Linked DNA regions of Homo sapiens. The protein of the gene in region 4 purifies or fractionates together with the protein of the main gene of each other region. This does not show direct contact. Each region holds a gene or a part of one and is shown on either strand. Other genes may lie near its edges.

Region 1 (3,500 bases), on a different chromosome or scaffold from region 4:
AGGCCACATCTTAGTGGCCTTACTTTACATCTTAGTAAAAAAAAAAAATTTTTTTTCAACTGAAGTTAAGTTTTACCTTGTTACCAGATTCAGAAGAAGATGTTGTTGAAACTCCTGCAGTGTCTCATGATGAACATACACACCAAGAGATAAAGGGCCGAAAAACACTGGCAACTCCTGCAGTTCGCCGTCTGGCAATGGAAAACAATGTAAGTTCTCTTAATATTTAAGTCTGAGATTGTATAGGAAGTGTACATTTGTATCTCTGAAAAATTAGCCAACTATCCCATGATGAAATAGCTCAATGAAATTAAGGAAACATGAAGATATTTGCTACTGAAAAGCAATAGTTGCATAAAAATACATGGGAGAAATGAGAAGTTGTAAACTTATTACTTACTATCAATTGAGCAGTATGATTTTATTATTCTTTCTTAGAGCCTAATAACAGTAAGAGCTACCATTTACTGAGCACTTGTAAATACCAGGTCTTATGTCAGGTGCTCTAGAGGCACAGCATGAGATAGGAATTTGAAGGAGGGAAAACCTGTAAAGGGACTGAAGGAAGCAAGATAAAAAAGAGAAGAGAAGGGAAATTGGCCAGACATGGTTATGGTATCAAGCATCTGGCCTGTCCCAAAGCTTGCCATGGTCCTAAGTAAAAAAAGAAAGACTCTGGCCTGATCTGAGGGTGCAAGGGAGAACCACAGAATTACTGCTTTGAGGCAAGGAGGCCGGCCTTTTGTATTTCCTCTGCCAGTCATTGACTGAATGGAAGGTGGAATGCCAGGCAGGGTGGCTCCCTGGCACTGGGATAGGTATTTACGTATTCTCATTTAACCCTGTAAGATAAGGAGCTATTTTAAGACTTGGAGGGTTTAAGTAACTAGTCTAAAGTCACACAGCTAACATAGCAAGAGCCAGAATTCAAAAGTGAGTCTATATCACTCCAAAACCTGTGCTGTTAGATGTTATATAAACCTCAACAATCATTGCCTCCATTATTTGAGCACATATGTGCCAGACACTATAGACACATCTGTAATCCTCACAAGGACCCTGCAGGCAGGTTGATTAACTTATCTAAAACCAAGTAAGCTGAACTAGGGATTTGAACACAAATCTGTCTGGTTCTGAAACCTGAATACTTTCCACTGTGCCCCACAATGAGACTTTTTGTTTGTCTCTTTTTGAGAAAAGTAAGGTTGCTGTGGGAAAAAAATAAAAGTTTATATTTTGTGAAATATGTAATAGAGTCATTAAAATGTTCATATTCTTTCAGCCAGTTATCCTGCCACTGGGGAACTATCCCAAGAAAATAATCTAGGAATCATTCTTCCTTGTATTTTATATAGCCAAAAATTAGAAGATGCATACACATTCAAATTATGTTATGTATCCTTGATAAAATGTTATGTAACCCTTAAATGTGTTTAAGTATGAAGACCATTTAGCATAACAGAAAATAGATATAGTAACGTGGAACATTAGGTTATTAAGGGCATCAGATGAAATAATGATTTAACATTTTGCTTTGAAATCTATAAAGCATTTTAATAATTTTTTTCTTAATAATATAGAAAGAAATATATAGAAGAAATGTATGATTTGGCTTTCCTAAAACACTCCCTAAAGATGGGTATAGAATACTTGGGTAGAGTGCTTGTATGATTACTAAAAATTAAATATTGGATTTAGTTATCAGAAATCATCTTTTTTCTTTGAATTTGCATATTTATGAATTGAGTTTGTTTAAAATTAAGAACCAGTGGCATTTACAGTTGTTTGTAACTGCCTAAAAATTATTTGTTTAAATTTTCATAGTCCATTTGTTACAAACTTAGTGTTTGCCTTAGTAAAGTCCTTTATTATTTTAGTCATCCTTAGAGATGCACTAATACAAATGAAATGGGGCCTATCCCTAAGAAATTAATACATACTATATATGAGGAGATCATTCCAAGCTTTTATGTTTATTTTTATTTAAATAGAATTAAATGTTTTGTACTGATCTTTCCAAAGCAACTACCAGAAAAATAACTAATTTGAGAGAGCTTTTGTATTATGATTATTTAAGTTGTTACGTTTTTAACTGGTAGCCAGTGTCAGAAACATTGGTCTAAATTTGGTATAGCATTTAGTTTCTCTTAAATTCTCAGCTCTCCCTCTTCTTATGTAGTCCCCAAGAATAGAAAAGGTCGAGTAAGAATTATGCAAGAGATTTTAAAATACTTGAGTATAAAAATGTAAGTTTTCAGCTGGGCATAGTGGCTCACGCCTGTAATTCCAGCACTTTTGGGAGGCTGAGGTGAGAGGATAGCTTGAGGCTAGGAGTTCAAGACCAGCCAGGGCAACAGAGTGAGACCCTGTCTCTACAAAAAATTTTTTTAAAAAGTAAGTTTTCATAAATAGCTCTAGATTATATATAATATAGATACCTGATGGTTACCACATGCATATGTGAACAGTATATACAAAAGTAATGATTACTTAAGTAGAAAATGAAAAGGTTATTTCCTTTTACTAATTTATTGGACAGATATATTTTACTGTCAGTTGATCAAATTCCATTTTGAAACTTTAATGATGTTTTTAAATAGTTGTATTTTTGGCATTAAAATATATCATTTTTTAGATTAAGCTGAGTGAAGTTGTTGGCTCAGGAAAAGATGGCAGAATACTTAAAGAAGATATCCTCAACTATTTGGAAAAGCAGACAGGAGCTATATTGCCTCCTTCACCCAAAGTTGAAATTATGCCACCTCCACCAAAGCCAAAAGACATGACTGTTCCTATACTAGTATCAAAACCTCCGGTATTCACAGGCAAAGACAAAACAGAACCCATAAAAGGTAATGATAATAATAACAATACTATAAGGCAATAGTTCATTTATTTTGGGGGAAGCTACCTCAGTAGATAAATGTATATAATATGGTGTTTTCAAGTCTTACTGAAGGGAAAGTTCAACTTCAGTCAGCATATAATTTTTCTTTTCTTTTCTTTTTTTTTGAGATGGAGTTTTGTTCTTGTTGTCCAGACTGTAGTGCAGTGGCACGATCTTGGCTCACTGCAGCCTCCGCCTCCCAGGTTCAAGCAATTCTCCTGCCTCAGCCTCCTGAGTATCTGGGATTACAGGTGCACGCCACCATGCTCAGCTAATTTTTTGTATTTTTAGTAGAGACAGGGTTTCATCATGTTGGCCAGGCTGGTCTCGAACTCCTGACCTCAGGTGATCCACCCTCCTCAGCCTCCCACAGTGCAGGGATTACAGGCGTGAGCCACTGCGCCTGGCCATAATTTTTAAATGGTGAAATAGCATAGCTTTTCCAGGAAACACTTACAATTTATGTGTATCATTATCTTCTGAAGAGTAATACGTTAGCAGGTTTCTTGAAATATAAACTTGTATATTGATAATTGCTCTGTTTGAAGACACACAGGACATTTTAAACATTCACTATTTGTAGTTAGCTTTCAAAATAACTAGTTCTGATTTG
Region 2 (3,500 bases), on a different chromosome or scaffold from region 4:
AAGTCCACATCTAAGGAAACGTATACTATTTAAAAGAAATTATAAAGATAAAAACAAATTTGTTTAAACCAAAAAAATTTCAGATGTTTACTTCTTTTTAAATTGAAACAAATACCAAGGGAGACCCACATACCATTCTGAGCTTCTTGACACCTTTTAATCCAGACACTGAAATTAGCATCTGCACCTAGAAAGAAAAAACTGACTATAACATCACTCATCTGCACAACCTATAAATCAACAAATACTTACTGAATACCTACTACATCCCAGGCAGTGTTCTAGGCACTGGGGAGTCGGCAGCGAACAAAACCTGTCTTAACAGACCTTATCACCAACTCTACTATAGTTATAAATATACCAATAGTTTAACATTTAGTTGTTAATCATGAAACATTTTGATTTTTTAAAAATTTTAACTACAGTCAACCTTAATTTCACAGATACAAATAATCTGCATTTCCCCCAATCCCGCTGCTCTTAGAGAAGCTTCCTCACACACAGAACAAAATCAGATGTAAATCAGACTCCCAATATGCCATCAGTTAGGGTGGGGAGGAGGCTTGGTAACTGGGAGCTGAGTTGAGGTTCAAAAGCCGTTCCCAGCCCCAGCTTGCTCTTCAATGCAGATACCTATTCAGTCCACTATTCTCTCAGTGGCTTTATCTGTTACCATGCCTTTCCTACCAACACCAAGCATCTTTAAATTCCGTGAAGTTTTGTCCTATCTCCAAGTTACATGGCAGTCGAGAGGCTATAGGTGATGTATTATATATTTATAGATAACAGTGTAAATGTATGCATAAACAAATTATTCACTTCTGGAGACACAGAACAATGATTACATTTAAACAGTCACAGTGCATAGTAAGATATGTTAAAAGTATTAAAAGTACTCTAAATAAGAGCTTATTAATTCAAGTTAACTGCAGACAAGATAAATTTGAAAATCTTAAATTAAAAATTTCTTAACAAAAATTTCTACTTTACTAATTTATAAAAGAAATCCAACTATACCAGCATTAATAAAAAATTTAAATACACTCTCACACACACTGTATTCTAGAGAACTATTGTATCAAAATCTATTATATCAAAAAGATTTGAGTAACCTATTATTTTAAGTAATCAGTAACTAAAACCAAGCAATTTATCACACAAAGAGGGGAAAAGGTAACAATTCTTTACCCTGTCTGATAAAAATAGAAGCCTAAAAGTTTAACTTAACTTTTTCCCAGATTTTGGCCGGGCATGGTGGCTCATACCTGTAATCCCAGCACTTTGGGAGTCCAAGGCAGGTGGATCACTTGAGGTCAAGAGTTGGAGACCAGCCTGGCCAACACGATGAAACCCCGTCTCTACTAAAAATACAAAAATTAGCCAGGCTTGGTGGTGCATGCCTGTAGTCCCAGCTGCTCAGGAGGTTGAGGCAGGAGAATCACCTGAACTTGAGAGACAGAGAACTGCACTATGGCCTGGACAACACAGTGAGACTCAGTCTCAAAAAAAGAAACAAACAAACAAACAAACAAAAACAAAAAAAAACCCCAAAAAACAACAACAAAAAAAGTTTCCTGGATTTAAAGACAAATTTATTTTTAAGTAAAATATCCTCAACAGCAATTTTACCAAACAGGTCTTCCTCTGAAGGCCACCTCTGAAATAACTAAAGAATAAATGTCAATGGCATGATATTAAGATATTACTCAAGAAAATAATCTAGGGGCCAGACGCAGTGGCTCATGCCTGTAACCCCAGCACTTTCAGAGGCCGAGGCAGGCAGAACGCTTGAGTCCAGGAGTTCAAGACCAGCCTGGGCAACATGGCAAATCCCCATCTCTGCAAAAAATAAAATGCAAAAATTAGTCAGGTGTGGTGGCATGTGCCTGTAGCCCCAGTTACTCAGGAGGCTGAGGTGGGAGGATCACTTGAGCCCAAGAGGTGGAGGCTGCAGTGACCCAAGATCGCACCACTGCACTCCAGCCTGGGCGACAGAGCGAGACCTTCTCTCGCTAAAAAAAGAAAGAAAAATGAAAATGTAGAGAATGGTATGACTCATGTTTCTTCAGGATTTTCACATTAGGTACCAAGGCACTACATAACTTCACTCTAGAATTTGCTAAGAGTGCAGATGTCCTGTTTGCTGACTGAATAGGCCTACTATTCACATACCAAAACTGGGATAAGCAAGTTTGAGAATAAGCCTTATCACCCAGACCTCTCCTTTTTTAATTTGTAGCTTCCATTTGCATAATCAGTGCTAAAATCCTTTTTTCTGAATAGGTACACAACAGAAAGGCAAACATTCAAAACAGTACAGAGTAAGAATGTAACATAAAATACTAAGAGTGAAGTTTCTTAATTTCAGCACTACTGACATTTTGGACCATATACTTCTTTGTTAGGCAGAACTGTCCTGGGCATTATAGAATATTTAGTAGCACCCCTGGTTTATACTCATTAGATGTCAGTAGCACAACCCCCATCCACCATTCATGATTATCAAAAATCTCTTCAGACATTGCATAAAGTTTCCTGGGAAGCAAAACCGTTTCCAGTTAAGAACCACTTCTTTAGAGAACTGTGATAAAACTCTATCATAACATAAAGATAAAATGATAATACAAGTAGGATTATGTAGTCTCCAATTTTCTGAAATTACTCACAACCTCTTAGTATTTTTCAGATTTAAAAATTCTTGGCTCTCGGCTGGGTGCAGTGGCTCATGCCTGTAATCCCAGCACTTTGGGAGGCCGAGGAGGGTGGATCACAAGGTCAGGAGATTGAGACCATCCTGGCTAACATGGTGAAACCCCATCTCTACTAAAAATACAAAAAAATTGGCCGGGCGTGGTGGTGGTCGCCTGTAGTCCCAGCTACTCGGGGGGCTGAGGCAGAAGAATGGCGTGAACCCGGGAGGCAGAGCTTGCAGTGAGTCGAGATCGCGCCACTGCACTCCAGCCTGGGCGACAGAGTGAGACTCCGTCTCAAAAAAAAAAAAAAAAAAAAAAAAAAAAAAAATATATATATATATATATATATATATTCTTGACTCTCACAATTTCTATATGTCTAGATATCCACACCACTGTGATACTTTTCATATATTCCCTCAAGAATATAACATTAAAAGTCACAATACTCTCAAAACTGTGTTTCTTCTGTACCCTCTCATAATTTACCCAAACGTACACTTCACTTCTCCATAAAAACCTTTAATGTTAAGATTTCACATCTCAGCAATCTGAATAATTTAAAATGAACAGACTTCTGACCAAGGCAAATTAAACTTTCACTTCTCCATTAGAAAAAAACAAAGCCAGACTAAACAGAGAGAGCATGTTAGGTGTTTCCATAGTTTTTTTTACTTCTAATGGTGAAGTTCATCTATGATTTAAATGCCAAAAGGCTAATTTAATCGATTTTAAGTGATCTCATATCTGCAATCAATATGAAATATAATTTAGATGAGAAAAACAGGTATTGGGTTTCTACAATTA
Region 3 (3,500 bases), on a different chromosome or scaffold from region 4:
TGGCCAACATGGTGAAACCCCATCTCTACTAAAAATACAAAAAAATTAGCTGGGCGTAATGGCGTGTGCCTGTAGTCCCAGCTACTTGGGAGGCTGAGGCAGAAGAATCGCTTGAACCTGGGAGGCGGAGATTGCAGTGAGCCGAGATCGCACCACTATACCCCAGCCTAGGTGACAGAGCAGCCCTCTGTCTCAAAATAAGATAGCCACAAGTGGTTGGTGGCTGCCACATTAGATGGTGCAGGGTTTTTGTTTTGTTTTGTTTTTTGTTTTTTCGAGGTGGAGTTTTGCTCTCATTGCCTAGGCTGGAGTGCAATGGCATGATCTTGGCTCACCACAACCTCCTCTTCCTGGGTTCAAGCGATTCTCCTGCCTCAGCCTCCCGAGTAGCTGGGATTACAGGCATGCACCACCATGCCTGGCTAATTTTGTATTTTTAGTAGAGACAGGGTTTCTCCATGTTGATCAGGCTGGTCTTGAACTCCCGACCTCAGGCGACCCACCCACCTCGGCCTCCCAGAGTGCTGGGATTACAGGTGTGAGCCACCATGCCTGGCTAAGATGATGCAGTTTTATCCAGGTGGAGATGAAGAAATAGTCAGGGAAAGGTTGAGAGGCTGCATATTGTAGACAGATTGGATTACTGGGTTCACTGGGGAAGATTGGATTAGAAGGAGGAGTGGGGCTGCTTTACTTGTCCCCGACTTCTTGCCCCTGCTCTGCCCACTCCTTCATTGAATACCCTGCTGCCCTGCAGATGTGTTTGCCTGATTTTCACCTCCCTTCCTGTCTCTGTTATCATAGCAGACGTTTTAGTGCTCAGGGAAAGGAGGAGGAAGGAAACTCAGATTGTCAAGGAATTGTGAGTCAGTTTCTCAGCCACTACCCCAGGCCTGGGCTTGGCTAAGTCATTTCACCTCTCTGACCCTAGCTAGTGGGGTGAATAGAGTCCCTACCCTGTTGGAAGTCAGGAAGCCCCTGGAGCTCGCTCTGTGCTAATTATCGGTGACTATTTCTGTGACCCAGCTCTTCAGGGGCAGCCTGTCTGGGGGTTCCAGTGCCCTGTGCAGTATCTCCAAGTGGTAGGTACTCAGTGTATGTATTAGTCCGTTTTCAGGCTGCTAATAAAAACACACCCAAGACTGGGTAATTTATAAAGAAAAAGAGGCTTAATGGACTCACAGTTCCACATGGCTGGGGAAGCCTCACAAACATGGCGGAAGGCAAATGAGGAGCAAAGTCACATCTTACATGGTGGCAGGCAGACAGAGTGCTTGCAGGGGAACTCCCCTTTATAAAACCATCAGATCTCGTGAGACTTATTCAGTATAATGAGAACAGCACGTGAAAGATCCACCCCCATAATTCAATTACCTCCCACTGGCTCCTTCCCACAACATGTGGGAATTATGGGAGCTATAATTCAAGATGAGATTTGAGTGGGGACAGAGACAAACCATGTCAGTGTGTATTGTGGGATGAATGGAGATGGTCATTACAGTCTTCTAAGTGTATGGGTCCATCTCTTACTTGCTAGTGTGTTAAGAAACCTGGCCTCCTTTTTCACATCTTGAGGCACTGAATGGTTTACAAATCCAACTCTAATTTTTTATTATATTTAATACACCAATAGTGCAAGGCCTTTATTGGTAGTACTCTCCTATTACAGATGGAGAGACTGAGGCTCAGAGAGGTGAGGTCTGAACTTGGAGCTCTGGACTCCAAAACCCAGTTTCTTTTCATGGTACCAGGCTGCCAGGAGGAGAAAGGATGGAGCTTAGATTCAAGTCTTGCAACATTCTTCTTAGTCCAGTATTGGCTTATTTTGTTTTATATTTTTTTGAGACGGAGTCTTGCTCTGTTACCCAGGCTGGAGTGCAGTGGCGTGATTTCTGCTCACTGCAACCTCTGCCTCCTGGGTTAAGCGATTGTCCTGCCTCCCCCTCTCGAGTAGCTGGGACTACAGGTGTGTGCCACCGTGTCCGGCTAATTTTTATATTTTTAATAGAGACAGGGTTTTGCCATGTTGGCCAGGCTGGTCTCGAACTCCTGGCCTCAACTGATCCACCCACCTCAGCCTCCCAAAGTGCTGGGGTTACAGGCGTGAGCCACCATGTGTGGCCGGGCAGGTGATTTTTCTTGTCTTTCGCCTCTTTCCACTTCAGTCCCCCTGGCCATCTTTCCCTTCCTTGAATGTGCCTCCTCCCACCTGGTGGCCTTTGTAGGTATGAGGTCCTTCAGATGATGGCTGACATGACACTTCCTCAGAGAAGCGTTCCAGACCCCAAACACCAGGTCTCTGTCTGTGAAACAGGGACAGTGATACCTGCCTAATCTGCACGCCTTTCCCTTCTCACGAGATATTCTGGGAAGGGGGACTCAACTCTTTGCTCTGTTTGAGGGCAGAGTGCCTTTGAGCTCAGGAGAGAGTGGGTTTGGGTGGCCTTAGCTACCCTAGATACGGAGGACTTGGAGTTAACTGGCACCATCCACAAAGCCTTGCATGCACTGGACCTGAACAAGTTGCTTAGCCCTTGAGGCGGCGCCTCAGCTACCACCTGTCTTTGATGGAGTTATGATAACAGTGCCTGCCCCGTCTGGATGCCTTATGGGTTCAGTGAGCACATAGGTGTAAATAAAGTGCTTTGAGTGGCACCTCAGCATGTAGTTATTCTCTGATTGACCTATAGCAGCCATGCCAGTCTTCAGGGTCCCAGGGCGCCAGGCTTTCTTCTCTTGCCTTGGAGCCTTGGTTTTTCCCTAGGACTGAAGTGTTCTGACCCCTTGGCTGAACTCCCCCTTCTTTAGGAAGCTTTCCCTGGTGTGCCATCTGATGCTGGTGCTTCCTGGAGGGGTACTATCTGATCCTAGCTGGTGAGGCATTCCTGCCAGAGCTGCGGCAGGTGCTTTCCCCGCCTCTCCACCAGCCTGTGAGGTGGATGCCATCCCCACGAGGGCACGCAGGTTCACAGAGACTGGCTCCTGTCCAAGGCCGCGTGGCTGGAAAGAGACAGAACCAGATTCAAACACCAGCAGTTTAACCCTAGAGACCCTCATCCTACCTCCTATGTGGGTAACCACTATACATCCTGCCTCCTCTGAAATCTCCCGTTTTTTTTTATTTTAAAATTTTATGTGAGTATTTACTTATTTATTTGCTGCTGTTGTTATTGTTTTGAGACAGAGTCTTGCTCTGTTTTCACCCAGGCTGGAGTGCAGTGGTGCGATCTTGGCTCACTGCAACCTCTGCCTCCTCGGCTCAAGCGATTCTCGTGCCTCAGTCTCCCGAGTAGCTGGGACTACAGACATGCACCACCATGCCTGGCTAATTTTTGTGTCTTTAGTAGAGATGGGGTTTCGCCATATTGGCCAGGCTGGTCTTGAACTCCTGGCTTCGAGTGAACTGCCTGCCCTGGCCTCCCAAAGTATTGAGATTATAAGCATAAGCCACTGTGCCCGGCCAAAATTTTATTTATTTATTTATTTTTTTGAGATGTAGT
Region 4 (3,500 bases):
ACAGGCCAGCTGGTACGACTTGTATCAACCCTCCCTCCTCCAGGTGCCGCAGACTCGCCCTTTAACCACCCGTTGAAGTCAAATGAGCCGTCTTCAGCAGAGATTTTCAGGCAAATAGCAGAGGACTGGGCAGGAACAGAAGTGGGGAAAAAATGAGCAGAGAGAGGGTGGGGGCGGCACAGGAACCGGACGGGCACTGAGCGCCTCAGCCATGCCCGCTGCACACCCAATTGTAGCTCATCCTCCCAAGATGCCTGTGTGTCTGCTCCGGTCCTCTAAGAAGCAAACAGGATTAGATGAGCAGGAAATGCACCTGGAGAAACCGTGAAGTATGAAGGGAAGGGAGCAGGGGCGCGCACAGTACAGCCTGACACCTGCGAGTGGAGACAGGGAGGGGAGGAAGGAGGGAGAGTGCAGCGAGGCCCGGGGAGCAGCTCAGCCAGCCTCTGGGGAGCCCTCGCGCAAAGCTTGCCCGTTGGAGGAGTCCTGTGTCTTGCAGGAATGGGCCAGCCCTGGTATCCCCACCACACGTAAGCATTGAGGGCAGCTCAGGGGCAGTTGCTTCAGCTCAGATGCCCAGGGGGGCAGCTGCTGGAACTGTCGGTCAACTGTGCTCCCCGCACCAGCTACTCTTCAAGAGCTGAGCAGTGCACCTCCGCAGCCACCACAGCTGGTGAAGTCACCCCGGATTTATAGCTAGGCAGGAGTGAACAGAGTGCCGGCTCTGAACTCTGGTCCGCCCTCAGAAACAGACCAGCTGATAAGACTTGTATTAATTCTCCCTCTTCCAGGTACCGCAGACTCGCCCTTAAGCACCACCCGTTGAAGTCAAATGAGCCGTCTTCAGCAGAGATTTTCAGGCAAATAGCAGAGGCCTACGACGTGCTGAGTGACCGTGAGTAGGTGTGGGGCTGAGCACCCCGCTTGATTAGGATCATTCCTTAAGTCTCTAGACTGTTGGGTTTTCTGAGGGGGCCCAATAACGAGGAAGCATCCTTCTTCCCTGCCTAGAATCTAGACACACAGAGAAGACAGAATACGGACCCGCCTTTCTCAGTAGAAGCAAGCTGAGGTGGAGGACGTGGGGTGTGGAGCCCAGGATTACACTGACTCGCTCATCCTGGCAGGCAGTGTGGGAGCTGGGGCACATTCCCCACGCATCCCTATGCCCTGCGGGGACGGGACCTTCCCCGGGAGAAACAGAGTAAGGGGCTTGCAGCTACGGGGAAGAAAGCTGAAGCTGGGCAGGCGTGCCCACCTGTCCCTCCCAGAGGTCCTTCCCAGTGGCTTAGTGTCCATTTCCCCAGGGCCAGCAACAGTAGGAAGAGGCAGAGAAAGGCCAGGAGTAATTAGGAAATCTGTCTCCTAGGGAAACCAGCAGAGTGAAGAAAGTGTGATCCCCGCCCCGGCACCCAGGGCCGTCCTGCGGGGCTTTCCCTGGGGGATTGTCCTGGAGACTAATCCTGGTTCCTGCGGAAGTGCAGCTAGAAGATCACTAAGGTTTCTACAGCCCCGAGTTTTCAGGACTTCAGGGTCCTTAGACTCTAGGATTTCGAAGTTTTAAAATTTGGAGGCTCTAGAATTCTTAGCTTCTAAAATGTCAAGGTTCTACGATTCCGTTTACCCCAGATAAGACAGTGGCTATGATGACTGAGTTAGGCCAAATCCCAGGGCCATTGCCTGAGCCTCAGTCTCTCAGTTATTCCCCCAGTCTCTCACCCTGCCCCCAGCAAACTCAAGGCTTTCCCGTCTCTCTTCTGGGCTACAGGAGCCATACCTAGGTCCTCCCAGAATGAAATGGAACGCCTGACTCCTAGGGTCTCATTCCAAAGACTGCCAGACAGCAGGCACTTTGGGATCAGGCTGCTTCTGCCCCTTCCCTTTCTCCATATCCGCCTGCTTCCCAGCCCCTCCACCTATCTCAGCCCCCAAAGTTGGACACCTCCTTAAGGTGATGCCCATCCACAGCCATGAAGAGAGGCATCTACGACAAGTTTGGAGAAGAGGGCCTGAAGGGTGGGATTCCTTTGGAGTTTGGATCCCAGACCCCATGGACAACTGGTTACGTCTTCCATGGCAAACCTGAAAAGGTGTTCCACGAGTTCTTTGGTGGAAACAACCCCTTCAGTGGTAAGAGGTCTTCCTCCCCCACCTTGCCTTATAGAGAAAGGACACTGCTATAAGTGATGTTTTCGTTGAGTAGTTTTGTTTTTATTTTTACTTTATTATTTTATTTTATTTACTTATTTTTTTTGGAGATGGAGACTCACTCTGTTTCCCAGGCTGGAGTGCAGTAGTGGGATCATGGCTTACTGCAACCTCTGCCTCCCGGGTTCAAATGATTCTCCTCCCTCAGCCTCCCAAGTAGCTGGGACTACAGGCGCACGCTGCCACACCCAGTTAATTTTTTTATATTTTTAGTAGAGACGAGGTTTCACCATGTTGCCCAGGCTGGTTTCGAACTCCTGAGCTCAGGCAATCTGCCTAAGGCCTTGGCCTCCCAAAGTGCTAGGATTACAGGCATGAGCCACCGTGCCCGGCCTATTTTTACTTTAATAAATATATATAAAACACATTGCAAAAGAAAAAGTAAAACAGAATTCATTGAAAAAGAAATACATTCCAGCCCTCCATTTTCTTTTTCTTTCTTTCTTTTTTATTTTTATTTTTTAGATGGAGTCCTGTTCTGTCACCCAGGCTGGAGTGCAGTGGCATGATCTCTGCTCACTGCAACCTCCGCCTCCGGGGTTCAAGCAGTTCTCCCTGCCTCAGCCTCCTGAGTAGCTGGGATTACAGGCACCCACCACCACACCCAGCTAATAATTTTATATTTTTTAGTAGAGACGTGGTTTCACCATGTCTGCCAGGCTGGTCTTGAACTCCTGACCTCAGCTGATCTGCCCACCTCTGCCTCCCAAAGTGCTGGGATTACAGGTGTGAGTCACCACGCCCAGCTAATTTTTGTATTTTTCATAGAGTAGAGACAGGGTTTCGCCATGTTGGCCAGGCTGGTCTTGAACTCCTGACCTCAGGTGATCTGCCCACCTCGGCCTCCCAAAGTGCTGGGATTACAGGCATGAGCCACCGTGTCTGGCCGAGCCCTCCATTTTCTTCCTCAGAAGCAGCTACTAGGGAAGCAGCTATTAGTAAACAGTTTATGTATCCTTCCAGAAACTTGCCATGCTTGTATGAGCTGTATTTATTTTTACAGAAGCCTTTTATTAAGGAAATAGGGCCAAATTTTACACAATGATTTTTTTTTTCACTTAATATATCTTGGAGATTATCTTATATGTTATACTATATATAGATCTACTTTATTCACTTACATGCAAATCTATATACTATGTACAGATCTGCATAAGATTTCATTGTACAGATGTCTATTAGGGATCCATTGCAGAAGCAAATACTGTTTTAGCCACGTGAAGCAGAAAGGGGTTCAAAACAGGGAATTAGGTGCTTTAAAAAATCACCGAGGCCAGGTGTGGTGGCTCACT

What was found.
Region 1: the proteins of DNAJB13 (region 4) and DBT purify together in Homo sapiens (affinity purification with mass spectrometry, with the first as the bait; one large-scale study listed by BioGRID). This does not show direct contact.
Region 2: the proteins of DNAJB13 (region 4) and SUGT1 purify together in Homo sapiens (affinity purification with mass spectrometry, with the first as the bait; one large-scale study listed by BioGRID). This does not show direct contact.
Region 3: the proteins of DNAJB13 (region 4) and BCKDHA purify together in Homo sapiens (affinity purification with mass spectrometry, with the first as the bait; one large-scale study listed by BioGRID). This does not show direct contact.

Annotation. Positions count from the first base shown.
Region 1 is NC_000001.11:100,215,335-100,218,834, reverse strand, and holds part of DBT (lipoamide acyltransferase component of branched-chain alpha-keto acid dehydrogenase complex, mitochondrial isoform 1 precursor), read left to right. Parts: intron 1-87; coding exon 88-209; intron 210-2,635; coding exon 2,636-2,852; intron 2,853-3,500. UniProt on the Homo sapiens protein: The branched-chain alpha-keto dehydrogenase complex catalyzes the overall conversion of alpha-keto acids to acyl-CoA and CO(2).
Region 2 is NC_000013.11:52,659,336-52,662,835, reverse strand, and holds part of SUGT1 (protein SGT1 homolog), read right to left. Parts: intron 1,362-3,500; coding exon of another isoform or gene 1,266-1,361; intron 188-1,265; coding exon 134-187; intron 1-133. UniProt on the Homo sapiens protein: May play a role in ubiquitination and subsequent proteasomal degradation of target proteins.
Region 3 is NC_000019.10:41,400,818-41,404,317, forward strand, and holds part of BCKDHA (2-oxoisovalerate dehydrogenase subunit alpha, mitochondrial isoform 1 precursor), read left to right. Parts: intron 1-3,500. UniProt on the Homo sapiens protein: Together with BCKDHB forms the heterotetrameric E1 subunit of the mitochondrial branched-chain alpha-ketoacid dehydrogenase (BCKD) complex.
Region 4 is NC_000011.10:73,957,526-73,961,025, forward strand, and holds part of DNAJB13 (dnaJ homolog subfamily B member 13), read left to right. Parts: intron 1-43; exon of another isoform or gene 44-329; intron 330-791; coding exon 792-895; exon of another isoform or gene 896-899; intron 900-1,011; exon of another isoform or gene 1,012-1,204; intron 1,205-1,369; exon of another isoform or gene 1,370-1,500; intron 1,501-1,968; coding exon 1,969-2,130; intron 2,131-3,500. UniProt on the Homo sapiens protein: Functions as part of axonemal radial spoke complexes that play an important part in the motility of sperm and cilia.